4 linked regions of the Homo sapiens genome follow. The protein of the gene in region 1 purifies or fractionates together with the protein of each later gene. This does not show direct contact. Each region holds a gene or a part of one and is shown on either strand. Other genes may lie near its edges.

The links. The genes of interacting proteins can lie anywhere in the genome.
Region 2: the proteins of ACAD11 (region 1) and UBXN7 purify together in Homo sapiens (affinity purification with mass spectrometry; 2 studies listed by BioGRID, with this or other methods). This does not show direct contact.
Region 3: the proteins of ACAD11 (region 1) and ITGA3 fractionate together in Homo sapiens (co-fractionation; one large-scale study listed by BioGRID). This does not show direct contact.
Region 4: the proteins of ACAD11 (region 1) and OSTM1 fractionate together in Homo sapiens (co-fractionation; one large-scale study listed by BioGRID). This does not show direct contact.

Annotation. Positions count from the first base shown.
Region 1 is NC_000003.12:132,575,405-132,580,468, forward strand, and holds part of ACAD11 (acyl-CoA dehydrogenase family member 11), read right to left. Parts: intron 4,155-5,064; coding exon 4,088-4,154; exon of another isoform or gene 3,478-4,087; coding exon 3,392-3,477; intron 1,612-3,391; coding exon 1,540-1,611; intron 523-1,539; coding exon 368-522; intron 1-367. UniProt on the Homo sapiens protein: Acyl-CoA dehydrogenase, that exhibits maximal activity towards saturated C22-CoA.
Region 2 is NC_000003.12:196,369,928-196,374,141, forward strand, and holds part of UBXN7 (UBX domain-containing protein 7), read right to left. Parts: intron 2,116-4,214; coding exon 1,969-2,115; intron 1-1,968. UniProt on the Homo sapiens protein: Ubiquitin-binding adapter that links a subset of NEDD8-associated cullin ring ligases (CRLs) to the segregase VCP/p97, to regulate turnover of their ubiquitination substrates.
Region 3 is NC_000017.11:50,068,896-50,073,109, forward strand, and holds part of ITGA3 (integrin alpha-3 preproprotein), read left to right. Parts: intron 1-1,948; coding exon 1,949-2,035; intron 2,036-2,415; coding exon 2,416-2,623; intron 2,624-3,090; coding exon 3,091-3,287; intron 3,288-4,214.
Region 4 is NC_000006.12:108,050,742-108,054,955, forward strand, and holds part of OSTM1 (osteopetrosis-associated transmembrane protein 1 precursor), read right to left. Parts: intron 3,847-4,214; coding exon 3,749-3,846; intron 458-3,748; coding exon 290-457; intron 1-289. UniProt on the Homo sapiens protein: Required for osteoclast and melanocyte maturation and function.

The DNA of each region.
Region 1 (5,064 bases):
TATGTGTCCTAATTCCTTCTAGGAAACCAATGGACAAGGCAAATCCTTCTTCCTTATGACAGCTCCTTCATGTCCACAGGGAGCTCTAATGTTCCAGGTTCTCTAAAGAACAAGAATCTGAGAAAGTTGAAGGAACTGTCTACACTCTTGTGTGCAGAGGTGTTGAAGCATTTTAGGAACTATTTAATTTTTCATAAAGATAAATACCTCTCATTAGACTATATTTAAATACAGACATAAATATGCCTTATTGAAAAGAATCACCCGGTTCATGTAGAGAAAGTCTGTCTCTCACAAGTAATGTTTTTGTTCAATGTTAGTGTAGTGCACCGGGCTACAATAAATTCAAATAAGTAATCGTCCTCACATGTGCATACAACTTCTTCTTGAAAGCTATCCTTTGTGTTGCCCGCTCACACATGATCTGCAAAGCGCGTTCCGCCAAACCTACTGTTCTCATACAGTGGTGGATTCTGCCAGGTCCAAGGCGGCCTTGGGAAATTTCAAATCCCCTACCTTCACCTGGGAAGAAAGGGGAAAAAAAGGGGGAATGTGAAAATGGCCTAGCCCATTCCTTTTGTTATTTATACAAATCCTGGGAAAGAGATGAGCTGCCCTTAATAAAAATGGCTTTCTAGTGAAAAAAAGTCAGTTCTATAATAAGGTTCACTATGAATTCATGGGAATTTTGATTTCTATGTTTTTAAAACCACCACCATTAAACATTTCAAATTTCAGAACTGTCTCTTAAGTATGTACTATGCATAAGCTATTTTATTAATGCTGCAATAGATACAAAGTTGGAATAACACATAGTCCCTGTACTAGGAGTTTAGAATCCAGAAGAGTGGGTAAGGGTAAGAGATACAGAGAGAAACAAAGGCAAAGGAAGAAGAGATTTTCTGTTCATCATTATAACCTCAGGGCCTGGCAGGTATCAGGGGCCTGGTGAATGGATGGGATGAACACAAAAACATTCCTGGAAGAGGTGGTATTCTAGATGTTCTTTGAAAGGGATATAGTATTCTAATAAGCAAGAGGATGGCATACAGTGTTCAAAGTTATTTATGCTTCTAACTTATATCTAATACTTGAATTCATAAAGTACTGAGGTTTTCTTAAAACAAATAGAGGCCTACAGATCATGTTCTAGGAGAAAGTGTATTGCTCTGAATTATATAATTTTCATATTATCTTTTCAATTGATGTGATATAGAAAACCACATCCAACACTTAAATAAAACCTCACCATTCCATGTAAGAAAATCCGCCAAACAGAAAACTTTCCCTTGACAAATGGAGTAAACAAGAAGGGAAAGTATTAGGTTGGTGCAAAAGTAATTGCGGCTTTTGCCAAAAACTGCAATTACCTTGGTGCAAAAGTAATTGCAGTTCAAAAACCGCAATAACTTTTGCACGAACCTAATATCTAAATCAAGGTAGACTTCAGGTCTAAATCTGGAAAGACTTATCTTTTCCAGATTTAGAGCTGAAATATTAATGTACAATACTGAAGAATCATTTCCAAATTCAACTCACCTAGTATTAGATTTGTGGCAGGAACTCGCACTTGATTAAAATGGATCTCAAAATGTCCTCCATGAAAATTATCTATAAAATAGAAAATAAAATTTAGAGCAAAAGGAGTTGACTAAAAAAGAGTCACATATTCTTAATCTGCTGAAATATAATTACTTGAAGAAAATAGGATTTCAAAGATCCATATGGCATGAACATTCTGAGGTAAGCCTCAGCCCTGAACCCCAGGACCCAGCAGCCCAGAAAACTCATCAACTGTTCAAGAAGAGAAACCCTTTGATCCAGATGTTTTCTAATTCATTCTCTGAAGTACAATTTCAGAGAGCTAGGAAAAAGGAAGACCAGGCTCCATAGATCCAGCCAGAGTATTTTATTTGTTTTATTATTGCTGCTTCTTTGAAATATTTTACATATGGGGTTCCAAACAATTTGCATGGAAAAAAGTTTCAATGTTTCAAAAATTAAAAATGAGTAATGTAATCCATGTTTCTTATTTTATCATTGTGGAAACCAACGCCTAAAGATGACAGGGGCCTGCTTGAGGGGAAAGAGCAGGCTTGGCATTAGTGATGATACAGAAACTAGACCTTCAGGTAGGTTTACTCCCAGTCTAGACTTGTTCCACTGTGTGTTCGTCTCTTGAAAATACTGGCATTTGAAACACTGAGGCCAGGAACACGTTCACATTTTATCTTTGCATCACCCCTTCTCCCTGCCAAGTTTTAGAGATAATCTCATGCTAACTCTACACCCTTTTCCTGTCAGAGGAGACAATAATCAGCCTTCTCCACACTGTTTCTTTTGGCCCTGGACACAGGGAGTTGGAGAGGTGCTAGTAAAGTTTTCATACTGAATAATCAAATGTAGCCTCTGCAATGGAAATTATTTGCAGCTCAACTATATTATAAACGCATTTTTGGTATCTTTGCGGCCGTTTCGCTGCAACCCAACAATTTCCTACATGCAATTTTCTCCAGCAAGCTTGCTCATCCCATCTTGCCACCTATGCTTACCCTGTGGGTATACTCTACAGCTGCATCTTAACTGATAAGTGATTCTATAAAACTGCAAGTCTTATATCTGCCACTTGAACATATTCATTAGTCATATTCAATGATAAAAAGAAAGCCAGGGGCTGGGCCCGGTGGCTCATACCTATAATCCCAGCACTTTGGGAGGCCGAGGAGGGTGGATTACCTGAGGTCAGGAGTTCGAGACCAGCCTGGCCAACATGGTGAAAGCCCGTCTCTACTAAAAATACAAAAATTAGCTGGGCATGGTGGCTAAGCAAATACTTGCTGAGAGGGTGATCTTAGCAAATATTTATTGTACACAATGAACACGTGCCACAGTAGGTGGCAGGAAACAAATGGATCTTTGCTTCTTAGAAGTCCCACCCAAGGGCAGAGGAAGGAAAATTTTGCACTCAAATAAGTCAAAAACTCATTGCTTTTTAACAGTTCTTGTAAGTTGATTGATTAAGAGGGCTAAAATTGGAGATAAAAATAATTTTATTGTGGATTATCTGTGCATTAATCCATTTTTATGAATGACAGAGAAAAGACTGGTAGTGTTGCTCTTCCTTAAATACAATCTGCCCTTTCCCAAAAAGGCAGAATTTATATTCTATAAATTCTATAATTTATATAATTATAAATTACATAAATGCTATACTATTTCTTTTTATTGGCTCTACTCTGAACTCCACCAGCATTTATATTAAGACAGTTGTCACAGACAAAGGAATATCTAAGAATCTATCTTATGCATTAAAATGCTATTGCCTTCAATGTTACTGCATATTCTAGCCTTCCTGCTTGCTAATGCATGGTCATATTTATTGGATACCTACCTGTGTAGCCAAAAACTGACAAAGGCCTTATTATTTTTACTCCAGGTGTGTTCATGGGAACAAGAATCATGCTGTGCTGTTTGTGTCTAGTCAAAAGAAAAATTGTATTAGAAAAAGTTTGCTAAGAAGAAAAATAAAACAGATAATAAGCAGAATCACAATTGTCTTTTTGATGTTTTCATGTAGTCATGTAAGCAGTGATGACTGGAATGGGAACTGTGTAAAAGACGTACACCAACATAGTCTGATGCAGGCTGTGATCTGGAACAGAAACAATGATTTGAAAATAAATGAGTTGTTTGATTGAAGCTTCTCACTGCTCAACAATGGTAACTGGGAACTTATATATATAATTAAACATTTCAAGATTATTGCCTTTGATCTAAACATCTAATCACTTCATTACACAGGTCTGAAAAAATTTGTCTGATAATTTAATCCAAACAGCTTTGATAATTTAGCAACACTTTCTAATACTGAAAATTCCACAGCGAAGAATGTTCAGCAATACTCCCTATAATGTTTTCCAAAAACACCTGTTAGAAAATACTTGTGAAATACAAATATATGACATTTACTCTCATATCTTACATTATGATTTGTGAGTCCAAACAGTGAATTTTAAGTAAATTACCTAGATAGGAGGAAGACTGGCTCATTCCTACACAGGTTTCTCAATCAGAATTGTTTAATTACCTGGAGAGAGAAGTATTTTGAGTTCTTCCCAAAACAATTGCAATTTTGCACTTGGGATTCCCAGCTCCTAAAACCAAGGGGAACACAAGCAGATTATAAAAGGAAATTTCTAGTTTGACATTTCACCTTGAAGGTTCTAATCCTTCCCACTTTACCTATGTCAGAAAACAAATAGAGAGAACATTCCTGATTCATTAAGATAATAATTCTTTTGTAACACTCTATATCATCCAAGAAAAATGATTAGGCAAGGCCAAGAATGGACCCCATCAATGAAAGCTGCTACACAAAAATAACCAGAAGTCAAAGCAGCATGAAAGAACTGCCACCTCTCCCATTTACACCATTTCAGACATCAGCATGCTAGAAAAGCTGAGAAATTTTATATGTCTAATATAATATTTTATATGTCAACGTATATGAGGCTGTGATCCCACTTTCAATAAGCCTGGTTCTTTTATTAATTTCTTAAGGGTCAAATTTTAAAAATATTTTTTCATTTTAATGCAAAATTTTATTTTATCACAGTTCAGGGGTCTGTGGCAATTGCCTACAAGGGTCTTTTTGCAAAAATTACTTTTAATGTTTACTAGTAAGTCTAGTCCCTTGGGAAAACTACCATTTGACTAGATTTTCAATTACAAGGCTGCACACAACTGGATCAGATTAAGTTAAACACATCTGTACAAAGTCTCAAACAAATGATCGGATTCTTTTTTCTGATTTATTATAAAAAGAGGTTTGAGGAGATTTGAAATCATATAAAGATTTAATGAGAAATGTTAGGAATGATGTCAAATAGTTGAATAATATTATAAAATTCCAGGAGTTAAAAGGATAAACTCCATGGAACATATTAAAGGACATTGCAGGAATGTAATCAGTAAAGTTCAGACTGTGGGAAATCTATAAGACAACTAATCCAGTTTCTTCAACAATTAAATTGCAATAAAAAGAAAAAAGAGAGATAGAGAAGT
Region 2 (4,214 bases), about 64 Mb from region 1:
TGAGACCATCCTGGCCAACATGGTGAAACCCCGTCTCTACTAAAATACAAAAATTAGCCGGGCCTGGTGACAGGCGCTTGTAGTCCCAGCTACTCGGGAGACTGAAGCAGGGGAATCGCTTGAACCCGGGAGGCAGAGACTGCAGTGAGCTGAGATCGTGCCACTGCACTCCTGCCCAGCGACAATGCAAGACTTGTCTCAAAAAAAAAAAAAAAAAAAAAAGATTATGGCTCCACATGGTGGCTCGCACCTATAACCCTAGCACTTTGTAGGGCAGAGGCAGAGGACAGCTTGAGGCCAGGAGTTTGAGACCAGCCTGGGCATCTCCACGAGAAGTTTTTTTGTTTTTTTTTGTTTGTTTGTTTGTTTTTAAATTAGCCAGGTTTAATGGTGTGCACCTATAGTCCCAGCAACTCAGGAGACTGAGGTGGGAAGATCCCTTGAGCCTATAGGGGTTAGAGCCTGCAGTGAGCTATGACTGCACCACTGTGTTCCGGCCTGGGTGACAGAGCAAGACCCTGTCCATTTATTTAAAAAAAAAAAGAAAAAAGAAAAGAAAAGAAAGAAAGAAAAAAAGATTATAAGCTCAAGAGTCCAGCACAGTGCTAAGCAAAGAGCTGCTCGATCAATATTTGTTGAATAAAATACAAGGAATTTTACCATTAAAGTTACATTAAATTTAGGGGCCTGTAAAATATAAACAGGCAAATTAATAACATTAATAGCATATCTTACAGTAGGGGAAAAAATTAAGCTCCTTCATAAGTTTTTATTTTCTATAACTTTTCACAAAATAAAAAATAAAAAAATTGAGCCGGCACGGTGATTCATGCCTATAATCCCAGCACTTTGGGAAGCCAAGGGAAGCAGATGGCTTGGGCCCAGGAGTTCGAGACGAGCCTGGGCAATATGGCAGGACCCCATCTCTACAAAAAAAAAAAAAAAAAAAAAATTATATGGGCATAGTGGTGCATGTTTGTGGTCCCAACTACTCAAGAAACTGAGGTGGAAGGATCATTTGAGCCCAGGAGGTCAAGGCTGAGCCATGTTCATGCCACTGCATTGCAGCCTGGGTGACAGAGCAAAACCCTGTCTCACAGTGGGGGAAAAATGATACAAGGTCTGTAACCTTATCTCATTAGCTGGGAAGACTAAAGTGACATGTCTAAGAACACAGAGTTAAAAAGTATCAAACTCAAGCTAAAATCTAAGTCTTAGCCAAATGCTTCCAATTACCTCAAGATCTTCTATACCTGCACTGTCTAATACAGCAACCACTACCCACAAGTGGCTACTGAAGCACCTGAAATCTTGCTACTCCAAATGGAGAAGGGGTGTAAGTATAAAATACAAACCATATCTTGAAGACTCAACACCAAATAAATGCAGATCATCTCATTATTTTTGTATTAGTTATATAGATATATTGATTTAACCAAATACATTATTACAGTTAATTTCATCTATTTTGATTAATCTTTTTTAATGTGGCTACTGGAAAAATTTAAATTATGTGTACAGCTTACAATATATTTCTACTGAACAGTACAGTTTGTTTGTTTTGTTTTGTTTGAGATGGAGTCTAGCTCTATTGTTCAGGCTGGAGTGTAATGGTGTGATCTTGGCTCACTGCAGTCTCCGCTACCCGGGTTCAAGTGATTCTCCTGCCTCAGCCTCCCGAGTAGCTGGGATTACAGGTGCCTGCTGCCACACCTGGCTGATTTTTTGTATTTTTAGGAGAGACAGGGTTTCACCATGTTGGCCAGGCTGGTCTCAAACTCCTGACCTCAGGTGATCCGCCGGCCTCAGCCTCCCAAAGTGCTGGGATTATAGGCGTGAGCTACTGCCCCCAGCCGGCTTTACCTTTTTTTAAATGTCTTAATTCATTATAACCCAATTCCTTTCCCTCAACAACCCACACTACAAAAGTAAAATTCTACAAAACTTCTGATTAACTCTCCTTCTCACCTGCCAGAAAATGAAATGTTCCCGGATAATATTCTTCACAGCTTCGTTGCTCCACACATCGCGGTTGAGGCACTGACATGCAAAGTCTTGAACATTTTGAATGTTTATCATCAGCCACTTATTTTGCATCTGGCCACACTCTTTGGCCTGCAAGAGTAAAGTTACACATTTGTTAGAAATAATTTCTACTTAGTGACAGATGTTTCCGTAGTTGTTCAGAGGTTGTTGTCTTTCATTAAAAATACTAAGTTTTTGCCAGATACGACATCTAGAGTTTTCAGCATTTATACATTCTATATATTTACTTCGCATATGCATTTATAGCTATACTGTCCATTTCAAGCACTGCTCAAATTTAAATGAACTCATTTCTCTTTTATCCAGTTATTTGTTATAATAGCTGATTCTCTCTCTCTCTCTCTCTCTCTCTCCTTTCTTTCTTTCTTTCTTTTTTTTTTTTTTTTGAGACAGAGTCTAACTCTATTGCCCAGGCTAGAGTACAGTGGGGCAGTCTCGGCTCACTGCAACCTCCACCTCCTGAGTTCAAGTGATTCTCCCGCCGCAGCCTCCCAAGTAGTTGGGATTAAAGGCGTGCCCCAACACGCCTGGCTGATTTTTGTATTTTTAGTAGAGATGGGGTATCAACATGTTGGCCAGGCTGGTCTCGAACTTCTGACCTCAAATGACCCGTCCACCTTGGCCTCCCAAAGTGCTGGAATTACAGGTGTGACTCATCATGACCGGTAATGGCTGAATTTTTAATGTATGTTTAAACATCTTTACCTGAAAAGGATTCAACAAACTTAAGATCAACAAGTCACGTAATTTTATTCTCTTGCAACCTCCATCAACAATTTTTTTTTTTTTTGAGACGAGCTTTGCTCTTGTTGCCTAAGTCGGAGAACAATGGCACGATCTCGGCTCACTACAACCTCCACCTACTAGGTTCAAGTGATTCTTCTGCCTTAGCCTACCGAGTAGCTGGGATTACAGGTGTGTGCCACCATGCCTGACTAATTTTTTATATATTTTTAGTAAAGAGACGGGGTTTCACCATGTTGGCCAGGCTGGTCTCAAACTCCTGACCTCAGGTGACGCACCCATCTCAGCCTCCCAAAGTGCTGGGATTATAGGCGTGAGCCACCGCGCCCAGCCAATTATACTTCTTTTTAATGAATGCAATTGGTGTGTATATTTTACTTTGTTTTCTTCAACATCATTTCTGGAACATTTTTAAACATCATATTAATCTCAGTTATTAGGCATATATGCTGTTTTGGAGAATCACCCTAAACATTTTAGTAAAAACTGCTGAGAGTTTTTTCTCTTAAGAGTTGTCTTCCTAGGAGTAGATTCCAAAAATTGGGATTACAAGGTCAAAGAATGTTTGAGAATGATCCCCAAACAACTCTACGATTCGTACAACAGATATCGATACATCAATCGTTAGTGCGTACTTTTTGCCTGTCAGTCCCTTGTCAGCATAAAGACCCATGAAATGCTGCTGAGTGGAAAACAATGGCAGAAAAGCAAATAAGCAAATGCTGCCTCAAATCTTTGCCTAGGAAAGAACAGTGACACGAAACCACAGTTTTGGAATAAATTTATCCTAGAACAGTATTCTTTTCCAAATCAGTGTGACATGGGAAAATCTTAAGAATCAATGAATTTGGTGTAATAACAATCCAAGAACATACTGGACATCATTTTGTGGGTACTGAAAAATGTGAGACTGAGAATATCTTCTGTTTTAAGAAGGTCTACATCATCTCACAAATAGCTTTTTTTTTGTATGAATCCCCCAGAATAAATTATTTTCTTTTTTTGTTGTTTATATTTTTTGTAGAGACAGGGGTTTCACTATGTTAGCCAGGCTGGTTTGGAACACCTAGCCTCAAATGATCCTCCTGCCCTGGCCTCCAAAAGTCTTGGGATTACAGGTGTCAGTCACCCCACTCAGCCCCAGAATAAATTATCTTCTAATATTTGCTTACTGATTCCATGGGTGAAAACCCAAGGTCTAAAAAGAAATATCCTCATATTGAGCCAGGAAGCCGCATTTAACTGGTCAAAGGCTTATTTTAAAATATACAAATATAATAATTCCTTGCTTATAGGAAGTAATATTTCCATTTACTTCCTTATAGGACAAAGATTTAAAAAGTGAATGATAAATGAATAATTAAGCTGCTTTAACTACAGAAACAGTATTTGAAAATAAACGGAAAAATGACCATACGTTCTAG
Region 3 (4,214 bases), on another chromosome or scaffold:
GGAGTGCAGTGGTGCAATCTCGGCTCACTGCAAGCTCCACCTCCAGGGTTCACGCCATTCTCCTGCCTCAGCCTCTTGAGTAGCTGGGACTACAGGTGCCCGCCACCATGCCCGGCTAATTTTTTTGTATTTTTAGTAGAGACGGGCTTTCACCGTGTTAGCCAGGATGGTCTCAATCTCCTGACCTCGTGATCCGCTCACCTCGGTCTCCCAAAGTACTGGGATTACAGGCGTGAGCCACCGCGCCCAGCCTAATCATTCTTAAAATACTCTTATGAGGCAAGTATTATTATATCCATTTTACAAAAACAAAAACTAAGACTTAGAGAAGTAAATTGCCCAAGGCCAACAAAGTTATGAAACCTGGATTGGAATACAGGTCCATCTGACTTCAGTTTAACCATTTACAAACTAATTCTAAAAATAAAACATGCTCCTGGTACAACCACTACATAGTACAGTAGGCAATGTCCTATAATAATAGTTATCGCCAGGTGCAGTGGCTCATGCCTGTAATCCCAACACTTTGGAAAACTGAGGTGGGAGGATCACTTGAGCCCAGGAGTTCAAGACTAACGTGGGCAACGTAGGGAGACCTTGTCTCTACAAAAAATTTAAAAATTAGCCAGGTGTGGTGGCACACACCTATGGTCCCAGCTACTCAGGAGGCTGAGGTGGGAGGATCGCTTGGGCCCAGGAGGTTGAGGCTGCAGTGAGCTGCGATTGTGCCACTGTCCTCCAGCCTGAGCAGCAGAGCAAGACCTTATCTCAAAAAACTAAATAAATATCGCTACTTTCTCTCTTTCTCTTATCAAAAGTCATGGGCACTTTTTCATGTTGATATATATAGGACCATCATTTTAGAGGATGAAGGGTATTTTCTTGTAAAAGACCATGCTTGTAAAAGACCACACTACACATGGTCTCACAGGGGGTGTCTGACAGCTTATACTCCCTCCATCTCTTTGCCTCCCTCCATCACACAGGTTGTAGCAATAGGGACCCCTTTTCCCTTACTGAACCTTTATTGTTGTAGAATCAGCAGGCAGAGGAGCCTTGAATCTCCTCTTGACCAACATGTAGCCCCAGGCATAGTCACAGCTCTGGGCTCACCGAAGGCTGAGGCCTCTGCCCCCTCTTCTGGTCCTGCCTCCCACCCCCTGGTCATGTAGCACCTTGGCAAAGTCACAGATACTCTCCAGCAGCAGCCCTGGGTGCAGGGTCCAGCTAGGCAGCCCGAGTTTGGGGTCAGGACCAGAAAGAGATAATGGTGTGGAGTCTGACCTCAGTGTCTAGAGAGTGGGGAAAGCCATCTAGCATCTAATATCCAGGAGCCTGAGTGATTAAGTTCTAGCCATGGCTCTACAACCAGCTCCCCATGGGACTATGAGCAAGTCAACTTCCCTCCTGAGCCTCACTTATCTGCAAAATGGGGGTCATAATTTAACCTCAAATAATTGTTATAATAGGCCAGGCACAGTGGCTGACACCTGTAATCCCAGCACTTTGGGAGGCCAAGGCAGATGGATCACTTGAGGCCAGGAGTTTGAGACCAGCCTGGCCAACATGGTGAAACCTTGTCTCTACTGAAAATACAAAAATTAGCCGGGCATGGTGGCGCATGCCTGTAATCCCAGCTACTCGGGAGGCTGAGGCAGGAGAATCGCTTGAACCCAGGAAGCGGAGGTTGCAGTGAGGCAAGATCACACCATTGCACTCCAGCCTGGGCAACAAGAGCAAGACTGTCTCAAAAAAAAAAAAAAAAAAAAAAAAGGAAAAAAGAATTGTTAAAGAGGATGTGTTTTATAAATGGCAAAATGCTCACCAATAAAAGGGGTTATTACTATCCTTGTTGGGTGGGGGTGGGGGTGGGCTGGACATGGTAGAGGAAACCAGAAACCGGTGGTGACTTATACTCCCTACTCTCCCTCCCTCAATCCCTGTGAAGGAAACAGCTACATGATTCAGCGCAAGGAGTGGGACTTATCTGAGTATAGTTACAAGGACCCAGAGGACCAAGGAAACCTCTATATTGGTGAGTACAGTAGTGGTAGCCCATCAAGTGGTAGAGGGGAAGGGGGCTTAGTCCCTGGTGGAAAGGTGAGGCCAGAGTGCAGTTGTGACTAATGGCATTTAGTTAAACTAGCACACACGGATTGGCCGGCACCTGTATGCCAGGCCCTGTTCCAAGCTCCCAAGATGCAAAGTTCTTGACTTCAGGATGCTCACAGTCCAGTGTCCAGGCAGAACTGGGCCATGGCTGCTGGCCATCTGGAGTCTACTTTCTTGCCCTACTTGGAATAGTGGGATAGAACATCATGGTGGGGGGCAAGAGAGGGAATAGGGAGATGGGTCCAGAGTAGAAAGAGACGAAGTTGACTGGGACCTTGGTTGAACATCTTCCCTCTATCCCAGGGTACACGATGCAGGTAGGCAGCTTCATCCTGCACCCCAAAAACATCACCATTGTGACAGGTGCCCCACGGCACCGACATATGGGCGCGGTGTTCTTGCTGAGCCAGGAGGCAGGCGGAGACCTGCGGAGGAGGCAGGTGCTGGAGGGCTCGCAGGTGGGCGCCTATTTTGGCAGCGCCATTGCCCTGGCAGACCTGAACAATGATGGGTGAGAATCTAGGGACATCCTCTGGGGCCAGGGAGAGCGATGGGCGGGGGAAGGCTTACCTAAGCCAGGTGAGGGGAGTGGAGGATTTGCAGTTGTGCGGCTGTCTGCATGTTGTTTGCAGAGGTTTGCAGTCAGGCTTTATGGGAGTCTGAGCACCTGCACATGGCATTTGTGGGACCCCTGCGTTTGCTTGTTTCTGCTTGGGATTTGTATGCTCCAGTGGATGTGGATTGTTTGGGTTTGATTTGTGCCTGCATGGCGTCTCCATGACATATGTCTTCTATTTGGTGGGTCATATTGGCATCTCCATGTCCTTCCCATGCACATGTCCTTCCCACCCATGACCTGTGGCCGGAAGAGCCATTTGCAGAGCCCTGTGCCCTGGCACAGTCACACCTGTCAAACAAGAACTATGCTGCATATTGGAGGCTGACCTCACACTCCCATTTCCCTCCTCTCCTGTGTAGGTGGCAGGACCTCCTGGTGGGCGCCCCCTACTACTTCGAGAGGAAAGAGGAAGTAGGGGGTGCCATCTATGTCTTCATGAACCAGGCGGGAACCTCCTTCCCTGCTCACCCCTCACTCCTTCTTCATGGCCCCAGTGGCTCTGCCTTTGGTTTATCTGTGGCCAGCATTGGTGACATCAACCAGGATGGATTTCAGGGTATGAGCCAGCACTCCTCCCCCAGCACCCCTCCTCCAGCACCCCTCCTCCCAGCACCCCTACTGACTGAGCACCAGCTGCACATCAGGCTTGACAGGGCCCACAGATGAGACAGGATGGGGCCGGACCTGGGGAGCTCGCAGCAGTACTAGAGAGAGGATGTGCAGATGTGCAGAGGAAGCACAGAGGCAAGCTCAGTGGGCCTCCTGGAGGAGCTTGCATGCCACTGTGCAGCCAAGGCTGGGCTGAGAGTGCACAGTAGAGAACTGATGGGGCACAACATGGGTGTGGAAACTGGCCTGGTGTGCCCAAATCTAGCGGGTGTAGAGTGTTCACATCAGAGAGGAGGCTGGAGGGGGAGTGGGGTGGGGTGGGGTGAGGATGGATGCTTTGAAAGCCAGGCAGAGTATCTTAGGGATTTATATTTGGGTAATGGTGATGGTGGGGTCATGGGGCATCCAGAGAAAGTTTTAGGGCAGGGATGTGATATAATAACTTTGTACCCTGAAGGATGATTCTGGAAGGGGTATGGAATGAGTGATTGCAGGGATGGAGCAAGGCCAGGGGAGTTAAGATCAAGAATGTAATATCTCAGGTGGGAGATGATAAGGAATGGGACAAGGTGGGAGCCCTGGATATAGGGGTCCTCATAAGTGTTCTGCAGGACTTGGGGACCAATCGGACCTGGGGTATCAGGGACAGGGGCAGACCCAGGGCTGGAGTCAGTGCCATGGGGGCACCTGGCTTATCTGAAAGTCACTTCTCTGATAATCTCAGTTTCCCAGGACATAGCTGAGAACCAAGAGGAAGGCAAAGGAGCCTCTGAAGACCCAAAATAGGTGCCAGAAAGTTCAGTCACCAGAGGCCAAGTGTGCACTGTGGAAATCATTTGGTTTCGGCCTGGGACCTGCTTCTGCTCCCTTTACA
Region 4 (4,214 bases), on another chromosome or scaffold:
ACATATTTTCAAATTTAAAAAGATTAAAATGTACCAAAGCATCAACTCACTTATGAAGTACCTAATTAATTTCTGTTTTATTTTTATCCTAACCATGAGACTACTAAGGAAATATCCATTTTGGTTTAACAGACCAGGATATTCTAAAACTTTACTACTTTATAACTAGTTATTTTTGGTTGAGGACAGAATATGCAGATTCCACCCTATCACCAAAAATAATAATCATACTGAAGGTACATTCAATAACACTCTAAAATATGTATCACATCAGAAGCAAAGTACTTACTGCATCTTCCACATCAATGCATAAATGTGTTCCAGGTTCAGCCTTATTCTCAAGTTCATTCATTTTTTGCATTTCACTGTACAGACTACTCAGAGTTTTGTATGCTTCACGGCAGTTTTTGCATACTTCTGAATAATTTTTTGTCTGTAAAAGACTATGTGCATTCCCCTAAAATGACAAAGGCACATGTAATATATACAATAAACATTATATACAATATCTCTTTAATGTAAGCTATTTACGCTTCTAGAAGACGGGAAACAATATGGTGTGTTAAAGTGCTAAGCTGTGATGTTGAGTAGGTTACTAAATCACTCTGAGTCTCAGTTTTATCATCTATAAAATAAAACGACCTCTACCTGTATTATAAGTCCGAAGGATTAGAGACCCGGTATGTGAAGCAGATGGCAAACTGTTTGGAACTTTCTAGGTGCCTCTAAATTTTCAAAACTGCTGCATTAGCTAATGTTAACTGAGGATAACAATAATTCATATGCCAAATGACTAGTAACTAAATACAAAATTTCCTAAATTATCTCATCATCACAAACCCTCACTTATCTATCCTACTCTCACTGAATAAATAAAATAGGTTCCTGCCTATGCTGACTTGAACACCATAGTTTATCTTACTGAGACAGAACTTTTTAAATGGAAAGGGAAAAGGCACCAAAACTGCATCCCCACTCAACTCTCTTATCACAAGGCTCATAATCCAGGCCTTTCTAGTCAACAAAAAGGGCCAAATACCAAAGAATTGTATAACCTAAAATGAGGATAGTGGAGGTACATAAAATATTATGCTACTAAATCTCAATATTTTGTACTTCTAGACTGACACTTGTCTTTTCAAGAATAAGTTTGCTAAACAGTCAGTTCACACCTTTGCTTTCTATGCCCTTTATTCTTTACTTTGTAGTATGAAGAAAGAATATTAACTGAACATTGGGATGAAAGAGAAAAGAGAAAAATCAAAGTAATTACACTGATGTTGGCCCAACAATGTTACCCTCACCATCTGCTTGACAGAAAAACTAAGTCTCTCCTTAGTCTGCTACAAGAAATAGCCCATTGCTTGTTTTTCACAGAACAATTGTGCACTTAGTTAAAAATTGAGCACAGGGCTGGGCGCGATGGTTCACACCTGTAAACCCAGCACTTTGGGAGGCCGAGGTGGGCGGATCACAAGGTCAGGAGATCGAGACCATCCTGGCTAACACGGTGAAACCCCATCTCTACTAAAAATACAAAACTTAGCCGGGCGTGGTGGCGGGCACCTGTAGTCCCAGCTACTTGGGAGGCTGAGGCAGGAGAATGGCGTGAACCCGGGAGGCGGAGCTTGCAGTGAGCCGAGATCGCGCCACTGCACTCTAGCCCGGGTGACAGAGCGAGACTCCGTCTCAAAAAAAAAAAAAAAAATTGAGCACATAATCCATTTAACTAAAATTGTGCACATAATCTAGATGGGGAGTAATTTAACCTTTTTTTTTTTTTTTTTTTTTGAGACACGGTCTTGCTATTTTGCCCAGGCTAATTTCTAACTCCTGGGCTCAAATGATCCTCCCACCTCAACCTTCCAAAGTGCTGGGATTACAGGCAGGTGCCACCATACCTGGCCACAATTTTTATTCAAATTTAAAATGCACATATCTTTTAATAATGTGAAAGTTGCAGACATTAGGATGAAATCACCTTTTGACAGACCAAGACAAAATAGAGACAAAAAGAGTCCTTGTTTCCAAAGACTTTCTAAAAACCCCACAAGAAATCCTTTCACGCCCTTCATTGCAACTCCTGCTTTCACATGGTTTATCACTGCCATTCTTTAGGACTGCAGTAATTCAGATAAGATGCACTCAAAAGAACACTTGCCCAGTAATGGCATCGCCACCAATGAACTGACAACTTGGCTTTGAGCCTCAGGAACCAATGAACTCAGTTTCCAAGCAGCTTGTGTGAACCTCTCCCTTTTTGCTAATAAAAGCTTCCCTTTACCCTTCCCTCACTGGATGTACTGGTGGTTTGCCAGTGCATTCCAAATTACCATACTTCTTTCTTATTCCCTAATAAACTCATCATATTTGGAGATAATTTTCTCTAGTGTCTTTTTCTTAGGCTGCCAATATAGTAATTCTACTTCTAGAAATCTACCAAACTCATACAAGTACTCTAAGTTAAATGAAAAGAAGACTGTTTATGGTGTACAATTTAAAACTTATTATTTCCAGAATTTTCCATTTAATATTTTTGGACTGCAGTTGGCCACAGGTAACTGAAACTGTGGAAAGTGAAGCCATATATAAAAGGGATGACTTTATAGAAAAATTGCTATTTGAGTGTTACAACACACATCAGTCCACTAAAGGCTCTGAAGTCCTGTAGTAAAGCATTTCCCAACCTTAATGGAATACTAAACCCTTTCTGATAGGACATCTATTAACATGCTGCAGAACAAATTCTGAGAAATGTTCACCTAATTTTTTTTATTTTATTTTTTTGAGACAGAGTCTCTCTGCAACGCCCAGGCTGGAGTGCAATGGCACGATCTCAACTCACTGCAACCTCTACTTCACTACAGGCGTGCACCACCAAGCCTGGCTAAGTTTTGTATTTTTAGTAGAGACAGGGTTTCACCATATTGGCCAGGTTGATCTCGAACTCCTGACCTCAAGTGACCTGCCTGCCTTGGCCTCCCAAGGTGCTGGGATTATAGGCATGAGATACTGCACCTGGCCCAATTTTTATTATTCTCAAGGAAATTCATAATTCAGTGTTACCACATTTATTACAGAAGAAATCATACATGCTTATACCCTAAGCATGTGTACATCTACTATGGGGATTACTTACTTGTTATGTAAGTTTCAAAACTACATTTTAACCAGAGTTCCAACCTCGTCCTTCACCACGACCGGGCAAGTTCCAATACCAAAATTCAAGAGTCAGAGATAGAGATGGCAATAATCTACAAGGTTAAGATTCTTAAAGCTACCTTTTATTATCATAATTCAATACTCAAAGTTATCTTACTAAACAGTGCTTTTTAAGGTAGGTAAAACATACTTAAGCAAATTTCAGGCAAAGAATAAACTTCCTATAGACAGAATCATACTACACTGCAAAATACCTACGTAAGTCAGATTGAAAACCATTGTGTTTTAATTAAACAATCACACACCTCAATCAATGTTTTCACAATCATTATCTCACCAGATTCTCATTACAAAATACTTTAAGATAGGCAGGATAGATATTATCTCCATTTTACAATGAGAGAACTGAGGTTTTCATGATTTGTAAGTAGAAGAACTTACTTAAGAGCAGAAATCCAGGTCCACTAACTCCTTTACATCATGAATTTAGATAAATATCAATAATTAGTGCTCTAAAAACTTGGAACTGCACATTATTCCTTTGTACAAGGCAGCATTTTAATTTTAAATATTATATATAAAATACCTGAAGGTTATGTTCAAAGCAGGTCAGGGTGTGATTAAATAGATTAAGGAAATATACTGTGCTGTTTGATAATTCTTCACTGTTGTTTGTTAAACAATCTGTCAAAAAAATTCAAAAAGTATATTAATATAACTCAAGGAACAATTCTATGTTGTCATTTATATCTTAAGCTATCAGCTTCGTTTCACACTACAGTAATTCTTTATTCAAACAAGCATGAATTTTCCAAATATATGAAGCTTACTCCTTTTATTTTCCAAAAGTTAAAAAAGTCATAACCATTTTCATGAACATGTTAAAATAATCACATACTCTCTTTTCATAAAAATATACCAAATAAAATTCAAATGGACTTTTGATGGCACAAGGTCATAATCACGGAATATCAGCTATCAAATGCTGCCTTAACAGTGCTATTTAGGCATAAGACTGTTTACCCTGCATTAATTTTACCGAAACTCATATG